Linked DNA regions of Homo sapiens: region 1 is linked to region 2. Evidence: fine-mapped expression QTL. A gene starts in region 2. The other region holds a variant in brackets. All regions are shown on one strand. Distances are from middle to middle. Region 1 overlaps DNAH14 (dynein axonemal heavy chain 14). Region 2 holds the start of LBR (lamin B receptor).

Evidence for each region.
Region 1: its variant is fine-mapped to the expression of LBR in whole blood (TOPMed, PIP 0.98).

The regions. Positions count from the first base shown.
Region 1 is chr1:225,376,571-225,381,570 of GRCh38, reverse strand. DNAH14 (dynein axonemal heavy chain 14) reads right to left here. Exons shown (of 86, transcript NM_001367479.1): 79 at 4,135-4,334; 80 at 1,249-1,412; 81 at 1-188. Among named protein-coding and RNA genes, the nearest start is that of LBR, 49 kb to the left of the region's middle. The variant C/A (reference allele first, on the strand shown) is at 2,653.
Region 2 is chr1:225,425,407-225,430,929 of GRCh38, reverse strand. LBR (lamin B receptor) reads left to right here and starts at 2,892. Exons shown (of 14, transcript NM_002296.4): 1 at 2,892-2,976. RefSeq lists a silencer at 2,476-3,305 and enhancers at 3,138-3,809, 3,810-4,482.

The sequences.
Region 1 (5,000 bases), 49 kb after region 2:
TGTAGGCACTCTCATATTAAGAAAAGAGTTAAATATTTCCTCCAATTCTTGGGTGAGGATGATCTCTCCTTTTATAGCAAGCTGAAGATCTTTTAAGGATTTATGTATGACAAATAATAACTTATCAAATCGTTTAATTTCTTGCTTCAAAAAGGTTAGCAAGACACAATGGATAAGGGGGTCGTGATCTGGATTTTAAAAAGAAATAAAATTTTGATATTTTACAGATTAAAAAGAGGCTTTACATGGAGGGACTTAGGCTTTGAAAGTTAAGGGAATTTTGTGTGTCTTGACCAGGGGTTGATAAACATTTTCTGTAGAAGGTCAGATAGCAAACATTTTAGGGTATGGGGACCACACCACCTCTGTGAAAGCTACTCAGCTCTCCCCTTGTAGTGTGGGTGCGGCCACACTATCTACTATGTGTGGATGCATAGACAATATGTCATGAGTAAGTGTGGCTGTGTTCCAGTAAAGCTTTACTTATGGCACTCAAATTGGAGTTTCATATAACATTTATGTGTCACAAACTATATTCCTTCTTTTGATTTTTTTTAACCATTAAAAAATGCAAAAGCCATTTTAGTTCACAGGCTGTACAAAAACAAATGGTGGGCTGGATTTGGCCTGCGAGCCCTAATTTGCTGACCTTTGATTGAGACTCAACAATGACACTGTTTTGATAAACTATTGCTCAATATTTGGTTCCCAAATAAACTTCTGCAAAGGGATAAAATATGGGTATTAAAATTTAACTGGGAAAATTATCATAGTCTAGCAATTTAGCCACTTAGAGCTGGGTTTGGAGTCATCTCTGGGCAATCAGGCTTCCTCTGTCTTCCTGGGCCTGCCCTGATTCCCCTTAGCTTCTTGGAGTCAAGTGGTCTTTCAGCAGAAGGTCCATCTAAACTTCCGCTGTTCCAGAAGGCAGAGAGGCAGAGAGAACAGGCACCTAGAACTCTTGACAATCTCCAAAGCAGAGTTGCTGCTTTCTAGTTTGCTACACTTGTTATTTCTTCACTTTTGATTTCAGTGCCACACGCTACCCACCCCCAAACTAAAGCGTGATTTTCTTCTGTGCTCTCTGTCTTTCAACTTGGAGAGAGGAGGCAGAGACTGAGTTTTCCATCTTATCTCAGTATTTTCACTTCTACAGAATTTTTGTCTTATCTTTACCTTACTCCTGACACCAGAGTCCTTTCTTGAGGAGAGTGAGGTAAGGGGAAAAAGCTCCTGTCCCATGCTCACCTTTGAGATTTTTAGAAAGAGACTCCCAAATGGAGCTTGACATCATGCTCTTCAATGTGCTTGGAGTTCCAACAGCAATTTCTTCTTTCTCCACTGTCAGTGGCAGCCGCTTTAGCAAGTCGGATAGAATTTCCATCACCAGTTCATCCTTACTCTGCTCAGGTCTGCAAAAAAAACCAAGAGAAGAATGAGACACAGAACAGGAAGTGGGGAGATGGGGAGAGATTTGTTAAAGGATTCAAGATTACTGGTAGACAGGAGGAATATGTTTAGTGTTCTATACCACTGTAGGATGAGTATAGGTAACAAAAATAGATTATACATCTTCAAATAGCTAGAAGAGAGGATACTGAAAGTTCCCAACACAAAGGATAAATGTTTGAGATGATGGACATATGAATTGCCCTGATCTGATCACTATACATTGTATGTATTGAAACATTACTATGTACCTCAGAAATATGTACAATTATTATGTCAATTAAAAAAATAAAAATTGGCTGGGCACAGTGGCTCATGCCTGTAATCCCTGCAATTTGGGAGGCCGAGGCAGACAGATCACTTGAGGTCAGGAGTTTGAGACCAGCCTGGCCAACATGGTAAAACCCTGTCTCTACTAAAAATACAAAAGTTAGCCAGGCATGGTGGGCGCCTGTAGTCTGAGCTACTCAGGAGGCTGAGGCACGAGAATCACTTGAACCCGGGAGGCAGAGGTTGCAGTGAGCCAAGATTATGCCACTGCACTCCAGCCTGGGTGACAGAGCGAGACTCTATCTCAAAAAAAAAATTTAAAAAAAGAAAAGGAAAGGAAAATAAAATAAAAGAAATCAAGAGAAAAACAAGCTACAGATCTATCTAATGTTAGAGGGTCCTCTGCTTAAGTTCCGTCTGAAGATAAATGTATCTTCACAGAACCACAAAATTATGCTATGGATGATCTTACAGAGACCATGGAATTCATTTCATTTTGTAGATGAGAAACTGTCCAATGTACTTTAGACATTTGCAAGGAAATATGTATTATAAAAGCTTTTTTAGGATTTCTTTGTAAAATAATCATCTGCATGCATCTGCAAGACAATGAAAAAGAGGAGGCAACTAAACAGAGCACGCTGAAGCAGCCGCATGGAACATTCCACTGCTTGCCTCATTCCTGTGTTGACACGAAGGGCTTCTTAATCACACACTCCGCGGGTGGTGACAGGAGGAGCGCGTGTCCAGGCCTAGGTGAGGCTGCGATACTATGCAAAACCACTAAACACTAGAGCTGGAAGAGCTCTTTGGAATCCTTTTAAAGATGATGAAACCAGGGCCCCGGGAGGTGGGAGGACCTCCTTAGACAGTTAGTGGATGAGTAGGAAATGGGGCACATCTCTTTTGAGTTCTGCTGCTCTATTTACTAGC[C/A]GGGACTGATTTTTCTTTTTCTTTTCTTTTTTTTTTTTTGGGACGGAGTTTTGCACTGTCACCCCAGCTGGAGTGCAGTGTTGCTATCTTGGCTCACTGCAACCTCCCCCTCCCGGGTTCAAGCAATTCTCTGCCTCAGCCTCCCGAGTAGCTGGGATTACAGGTGCTCACCACCATGCTGGCTAATTTTTTGTATTTTTAGTAGAGACGGGGTTTCACCATCTTGGCCAGGCTGATCTTGAACTCCTGACCTCGTGACCCACCCGCCTCGGCCTCCCAAAGTGCTGGCATCACAGGCGTGAGCCCACCGCGCCCGGCCAGGACTGATTTTTCAACAAACACTCCAGGTTTCACAGTCAAATGAATATTATCCTTCAAGGTAAGCAATAACCTTAAAGCTGCCAAGAAGTATTTAGTCCAACAGTGCTGCTTCCAAACCAGTTTACAGATCGCCTGAGGTCACATGGCTCCTTACTTTGTCATCACACTGTTTTGACTGTAAAGTTGATTTTCTCCTTAGAATTCAACCCAGGTAGCTTCAAATAATTCAAAAGGTCAAAAGGTGTCAAAAATCAAGCTTACCTTCAGAGGGCAAAGATTTGCTACCACTAAGGAAATTACATTGAATATGATAGATGTTTGGATTAAGTCCCACAGACAAGTCTCTAATAAGCAAAGGCAGCAAGACTGGGATAATTATAGCCTCTCAAAGTGACCAAAGGGACATTAATAAGCATATCTAGTATGTTTATTAAAAGCATTTCCTTATAATATGTTGGTATCTTAAATATTTGTAATGTTTAAGAGAATTGGGCCTCGTAATACCTTGTGTTAGATTGGGGTCAGTCTTGTGACCCCAATTAAAAGAGATAATTGAGAAACTGATTTATGATTTTAGGTTGAAATCTTGTTAGATTGATATAAAATATTAGGGAACAAGAAAATTTAAGATTCACCATATTTATTTGATTATTAGATTTATAAAAGTTACTCAAAGATTTGAGAAGGTCTGGAAGACAAATTGAAGTACATTAACTTTATAATGAATATTAATATATTTGAAAATGTTTAAGCTTATAAATGGGGTCAAACATTCAAATATCTTTTAAAAGTGTTAAAATTTGTTAGACGTACAAATTGAAAAATTAGAACTTAAATACATAAGGAACTCATTGAAGTAGAATTTAGTTTCTTTACCATGTAGACTATACTTTTCTATATATCTCTTCAAATGAATTTTTTTTTTAGACAGGGTCTCAGCCTCGCAAGTTACTGGGACTACAGGTGCTCACCACTACACTCAGCTAATTTTTGTATTATTTGTAGAGACAGGGTTTCACCATGTTGCTCAGAGTGGTCTCGAACTCCTGAGCTCAAGCAATCTGTCCACCTCAGCCTCCCAAGGTGCTGGGATTACAGGCATGAGCTGCCAGACCCAGCCTGATAATTTTTGACCAACAATTTTTCCTAGCGAGTTCTTACCTGATCATGAGGTTGGCAGTGGTAGTTTTTGGTTGCATGGCAATCAGATTTTCAATAAACTTTTCGCCCTGGGTCTCCCAGCAGCTCCTGATGGCCTCTGGGTGTATTCCTAAGACCTCGGGAAGGTCATCATCAGGTAAGGACTGGATAATGTGTATGTAGTCCTTTATGCTTGCAGATCCTGGAACTGGCAGACATATCTGAAAATTTAACATTTTGTTAGCTTTTTTCTTCAATCCTGCTACTTCTGAACACTTTGTTGGTTTTTGCCAGAGTAAGATACCTACTTTCAGTAATGCTTGAAGACAATATTTTCCCATGAAATTTTATACCGAAGGCTTTCTTATTTGCATGTGGTATATTATAGACACTGTCAAAAGCAACATTTGGGACTACTGTATTGTAATGTGCATATGATATGCATGTATAACTTTCTTTTTGGGAAAAGAGAGAAAGAAAAAAAAAACGCTTTAAAGGTGAGGGTGATTCTGACCACCCATAGATAATGAATGCAATAAGGCTTGAACAAATCATTTTACTTTAGTGAAACCTATAGAAGGAATGTGAGAATGATCTTAAGAATAATTGACCACTGACCAAGAAGAGAAATGCATTGTTCATATGGTCAGGAAAGTGGGTGATGGTGGCTTTCTTGATATCATTAAGGAAAATGTTGAAGAATTAATGAAGGTCAGAGGGAAAAATCAAATAACAGTCACTGATTAAAAAAATTACCTGCAGAAGAAGCAAGATTATAACAAAAAACAGGAAGAGCTGGCAAGCTGGAACTGTCATAAAATTCCTAGTGTTTTAAAGCAACTGAACAATTGAAATACAAATTTCAGAATACCCTTCTGTCATCTGAT
Region 2 (5,523 bases):
AAAAAAAAAAAAAAAAAAAAAGAGGATAAGTGCTGCAAACATACATATAGTATGTAGAAGAAGTTTCAAATAATTTTTAAATTGCTATTGAGATGGACATAATGCATCATGTTAATTGTGAGCTCCATTTCTGTGTGAATAGAAACCATATCAAACATCATCAGTAGAAATGTGTTTTTATCGGACAGCTTTTGAGGTACCTCTACCTTATGAATAAAGGCTTTCTGCAGTTTGCAGCATACAGAAGTTTGTTCCTTATGTAACAGTACCAAAAGAATCCAACTGGATCTCACGCCACGTGAAACTTTACCTACACGTCTTTCCTGAAAGAGATGTTTCAATCCTGGGAACCGAGATCCTCTGGAGACCAGAGCCAAATAACTGCCACATTGGAATGCATTCCGCTGGGGGTTCCTGTATTTTATATATGAAAGCTTCCTGGCCGCATGTGTGTTTTGGTTGGCTTTAGTGGCAGGACTGAAGGGTTTTGCTTTGCTTTTGTTATGTGAATGGGGAAAGGGGCTTTGCCACTCATGGCCTCATTAACAACAATGGTGCCAAGATGCGGACTTTTAAGTGACTTTTACTTTATAGATTCTGAAAACCCACAACTTGCTAGTTGTGAGTGACAAGCATCTTTCTGAGAACTTTCTGAAAATTCCCCACTTCCAAGTTTACACAGCCTTTAGTAGACTTAAAAAAGAAGAGAAAAATACCAAACAGTTCCTTTGTTGAGAAAGCAGCCTACATATAGATCTGATTGTTCATGGTATGTTTGAGTCCACGAAGTAGAAATGAACAAAAATTATTGCTTAGTTTTCCTGATGTCAAATCAGTTTTGTTTTAAAAATGTCATTAGTAATTTATTAGGTAAAATGTTAGCTAAGCTAACTCTAGTTAATTTACAAAGTTTTGGCTTCATTTTGTTATGATGAGACTTTATAAACCTGATCTTTAAAATAAGGTTCTTAAAATTTTTAAAAATTTATTTTATTTATTTTTTGAGACAGAGTTTCGCTCTTCTTGCCCAGGCTGAGTGGCAGTGGCATGATCTCAGCTCATTGCAACCTTCACCTCCCAGGTTCAAGCGATTCTTCTGCTTCAGCCTCCCGAGTAGCTGGGACTACAGGTGCTCGCCACCGTGCCCAGCTAATTTTTGTATTTTTTTAGTAGAGATGGGGTTTCACCATGTTGGCCAAGTTGGTCTCGAACTCCTGCTCAGGTGATCCAACCGCCTCGGCTTCCCAAAGTGCTGGGATTATAGGCGTGAGCCACGGCGCCTGGCCAGGTGTTTTTTTTTTTTTTTTTGAAACGAATCTTCTTCTATTTCACAAGTGGAAATCATCCAGGAAATGTGCACCTCAAGGGAAATCCAGTGAAATCTTGATTCTGGGTAGAACATATGAGAAAAGAATAGTGTAGCACTCACTGCTTGGCTATTTGGGATAGGATCTGTCTTAGGTCCCCATAAGCGCTTTTATTTCTGTGTAATTTACTGCAAAACTCTATGAGGTAGGACTAATATTATCTTATGTCAAGGGTTAAGACAATTGAGACTTGGGGGTTTGTCAAAAATAAAAGATTTTCTGACTTTGGAGTGCGATGTGCATTTCTGTTGCACAGATCTCCACCAAGGGCAAATTCGATGGCAATGACAATTTGATGTCAGAACTTCTCAGGAAAGGCTCTGATGAACTCATTCACACTGCATGTGAATGACTGAGAAAACTCGATGTATTTTCACTTTTTTTTTTTTAAGAAGTAAACCTGGGTGTTTTGTAGTTCTATGAGAAAATGAAAGCTGAAGCTAGGCTATAGATGAAAAGTTCTATTCATTATTACAATTTAATAATGCTTCCAAAATAGCAATTCACTTAAATATACCTAGTTAGGGTGTTAAGAAATACTTTGATTAAAACCACACTGCAAAATAGGGAACTTCAATGGACTGCTTTAAACTCTCGACCTCAAAGGAAGGAAATCAACTAACCGATAATGAAAACTAGCAGAAAAAAAAAAGCTTAGGATCCGTAACAGATTCGGAGTCAACAATGACATGACTCAGCATTTTGGGGTTCAATTAAAACCAGGCTTGTAGGTTGCAGGTCAAGTTGTGTTTCGGTGTGTAACGCATAAAACTTCTTGTTCCACGCTCCGCGGTGTTGGGGATTTTCTACTGCATCTCGACAGCATCTCGGGTAACAACCGAGCCCCTCCTCGCAGCGTAAGTCGTAGGAGCCCTCGGCCATTCTTCCCCCTCCCTCCCGCCGCCGGTCCCAGCATCGGTCCGGGTTCGCTTCTACGCAGGTTCAGCGGCCGCGGACACAAAAGCGCCCCTGCTCGCCTTCGATGCCGCTGCTTGGTCCAGGGGCTTCTGTGGGATTTTAACACGCTAAGGAGGGCACTCATAGTGTTTTACCGAGAAACGCTTTCGAGCTCGGATCTTTGGTGATCACTTCAAGAATGTATTAGTTTTCTTTGTAGCTTAAAAAAAAATCTCGTTCGCCAAGCCACCTGGCACCCCAAACACTGCTGCGAGCGCTGGGAGGGAAAGGGCGGGAGCGCGCGGGCTCCGTGTGCTGCGAGGGCGCCTGGGCGGCTGAGATAAGGCGGTGGCAAACGTCGCGCTCCGGGCCGCCCCGCCAGACTCGGTTTCCCCCGCTCACCGGCCTCCCCGCCCCCAGGCAGGGTGGGGCGGGGCGGACGCGCCACGGCGCGCGACCAATCGACAGCGCCGGGGATGATTCAAAAGGTCGAGGAGCCAATGGGAGCCCCGGGCGGCCTCGCCGGTGGGGAGGGGAGGCGAGGGGAGGGGAGAAGCGCCGCGAGGCGGGGCCGGGGAGGCGCGCGCCCGGCTTGCGGGACTGCGGGGCGCGAGAGCGCGGCCGGGTAGCGTCGCGCGCGTGGATCTGCCGCCGGGTTGCTGTGCGACTATTCTCCGGGAGCCGTCCGTGTCACCGCCGGAACCTGGCGCAGGTGAGTGCTTCCACCCCCGCCCTGCTCCCAGCTCCCCGCGGCGCGTTCTTCGAGGGGCCGCTGGGGGAGGAAGCCCGAGGCCGGCGCAGCGGCCGGGCCGGGGACCCTGGGCGCGGGGCCTGGCGCGGCGGCCTTCCCCTCCTCTCCTCGCCTCCTCGTCTCCTCCCCTCCTCGCCTTTTCTGGCCCAGTCGGGTGGTCGGGGCGGCGGCGGGCGAGGCTGGAGCTCGCCCGAGCCGGGCCCGCTGCGGAAATGGAGCTGGGGGTTTTAAACTGCGGACGTTTCCCTCCATGTTGGCGGCGCGGCGCGGCTGTGGAGCGGCGGCGGCAGGGAGGGTTCGTGGGCGCCTTTGTCCTGCCCCACCGCAGCCTGGCTCCCGGCCCCTCCGAGCGCCCGTCTGACAGATGAGCAGGCGGCCCCGCGGTCCTGCAGTAGGAGGCTGACAGGGCGCGGCGGCCTGGCGGGACGGGGAAGGGTCTGCGGCCGAGGTGGGCTTAGATTCGCGCTGCTTGTCACTGGCTTTGAGGGTCGTGGTCGTCGCGGTTTGGTGATTCTCCAGGCACACTGCATGGCTGCTCGCTCCTATGCGTTGAATTCCTTCGCCCGGACAGTCTCAAAAATCGGGTATTTAGGCGGGTGTGCGTGTTCCTGCTAAAGCACGGTCCTGCTTTTTCACCTTTTTGAGGGTTCAGAAAAATGTTCTAATGACAGCCAGCCTCGCACTGCCAGTAGCCTCAAGGGGCACTTAGTAAAGCACTTGCTTTCGGAGGGCTTTGTTGAAGGCGCTTTCCCAGAGTGATTACGGGGCCCGGTCGGGTGTTCACACGAGGGCGCGGTAGATACCGTGGTCCGCGCGTGGACACCTGCAGCGCGAGGCGCGGCGCCTGGGCAGTGCCAGGGTGAACAGGCCCCCGGGGACCTTGCACGTAAACACGTGTAGATCTGTAGTTACGCATTGTAGTAACTGGTGTGTGGGAGAAGATGGAGCTACGGAGAAGAGCAGAGGGATCCTAATTTAGATTAGGCAACAAGTCCAGTTTAAGTTTTGTTTCTCAGGCTGCCTGGGAAGAGGGAGAAGAACGAGCAGGAGGGGAATGATGAGCTGCCCAAGGATGTTTATGGGGAAGAAGGCGCTTCTGCCTTTACAGCCAGGAAGGTGGCCTTTCTGTTGCTTCATGAAGCAAAGGGCGCGGAGCAAGGCCCGGGGTTCCTGTTTGCATTTTGCCTAGTGGGGCTACCGGGGCTCAGGTGTGAAAAGGAAGCTGTCCAACGTCATTCGAGCGTCTTGCTCTATGCCACGTTTAGATGAATTTGGAGAAGTGAAGGAAAGATGGCTGGAGACCCCTGTAATGTTAATGAGCAGAGAATTGTTGTGTTCACAAACAGTAACATACCGGAGCTGGAATGTGTGAGGATTGCAGTGCCAGTTGACTCTGAAGTTAGCGGGCATCTGGCTTAATAGAGAAAAACCTGAGGGTCTCCGTGTTTTTCCTGTTTATGGCGAATGAGGACATTGGGTGCAGTGAACAAAATTTTTCTTTACAAACACACTTGCCTAAAACATCTCTTGTAAGAAAATCCTGTGTGTATCTTGACTCCTGTAGGTGAGTGCATAGTGAGTGACACGAACAAATGTGGGGCTTTTGTGTGCCATCCTGGCTATTTCACTCCTGTGGGGGAATATATTAGGATGTGATTGCACTGTATCCTCACGTTTGACAATTGTGTGTGGATCTTGTGTAAAGTGGGGGTGCACATCATGTTGTTGGCTTCATCTTTTGGAACATTTGTGTATAAGATAATGGTCTTCTAAGAAGAATGCCGGTTCATTTTGTTTGTTTTTCAAGCAAATCTTAATTCTTCTTTTAAAAAGTAAGCTTTAGAGACCTAACAGGTATCCACCATATGTGTTAACTTGTTTAACCCAGAATAATTGATAAGAATCTTTTTGGCACTGGCCTGCGTTTATATTACACAGATACTGTGTATGTGGTGTGTAAGTGCAATGGAAAGATGCCAGTAAATAAGTTTTTAAGAACACGCAGAAACTGTTCAAGGGTCTTTTAAAACCTCAAGTAGCCCCTGCGTCCTGAAGGGCTTGTGTTTCAAAAGTTTATAAAGAGTTTTTTGCAACTTGAGCATCTTCCTGTAGGAAGACATAATTGCCTTCTTTTAACTCTGGCTGACCAGTGTAGGAGAGCTAGTACTAGTAAGAGTGGTTTGATTTTGGGGGGCCTAGGGAGGAGGAGGGGGCTCAAGAGAAGAGAGAAGGAGGGTACATTTCCTTCCTCTTTCTTTGTACTTGGAGGCTCTGAGCTAAATGTTGAAATAGGCAAAGCTGGATGTTGTCACCTTCCGTTTTTATGCCCCTGCTCATGCAGAGGTGTTCACTGCCCCCCTGCTCCCTAAGTGCCCCTCGGGTGACTCAGCCAGGCCTGACTTCATCCCGAAAACTTGTGGGCTCCTCCCCACTACTCCAAGCCCAAACCCATTCATTACCCCAGTGATGCCCAATCTCAGGTAGGTGTAGGGAAGAAAGCTGCCTCTC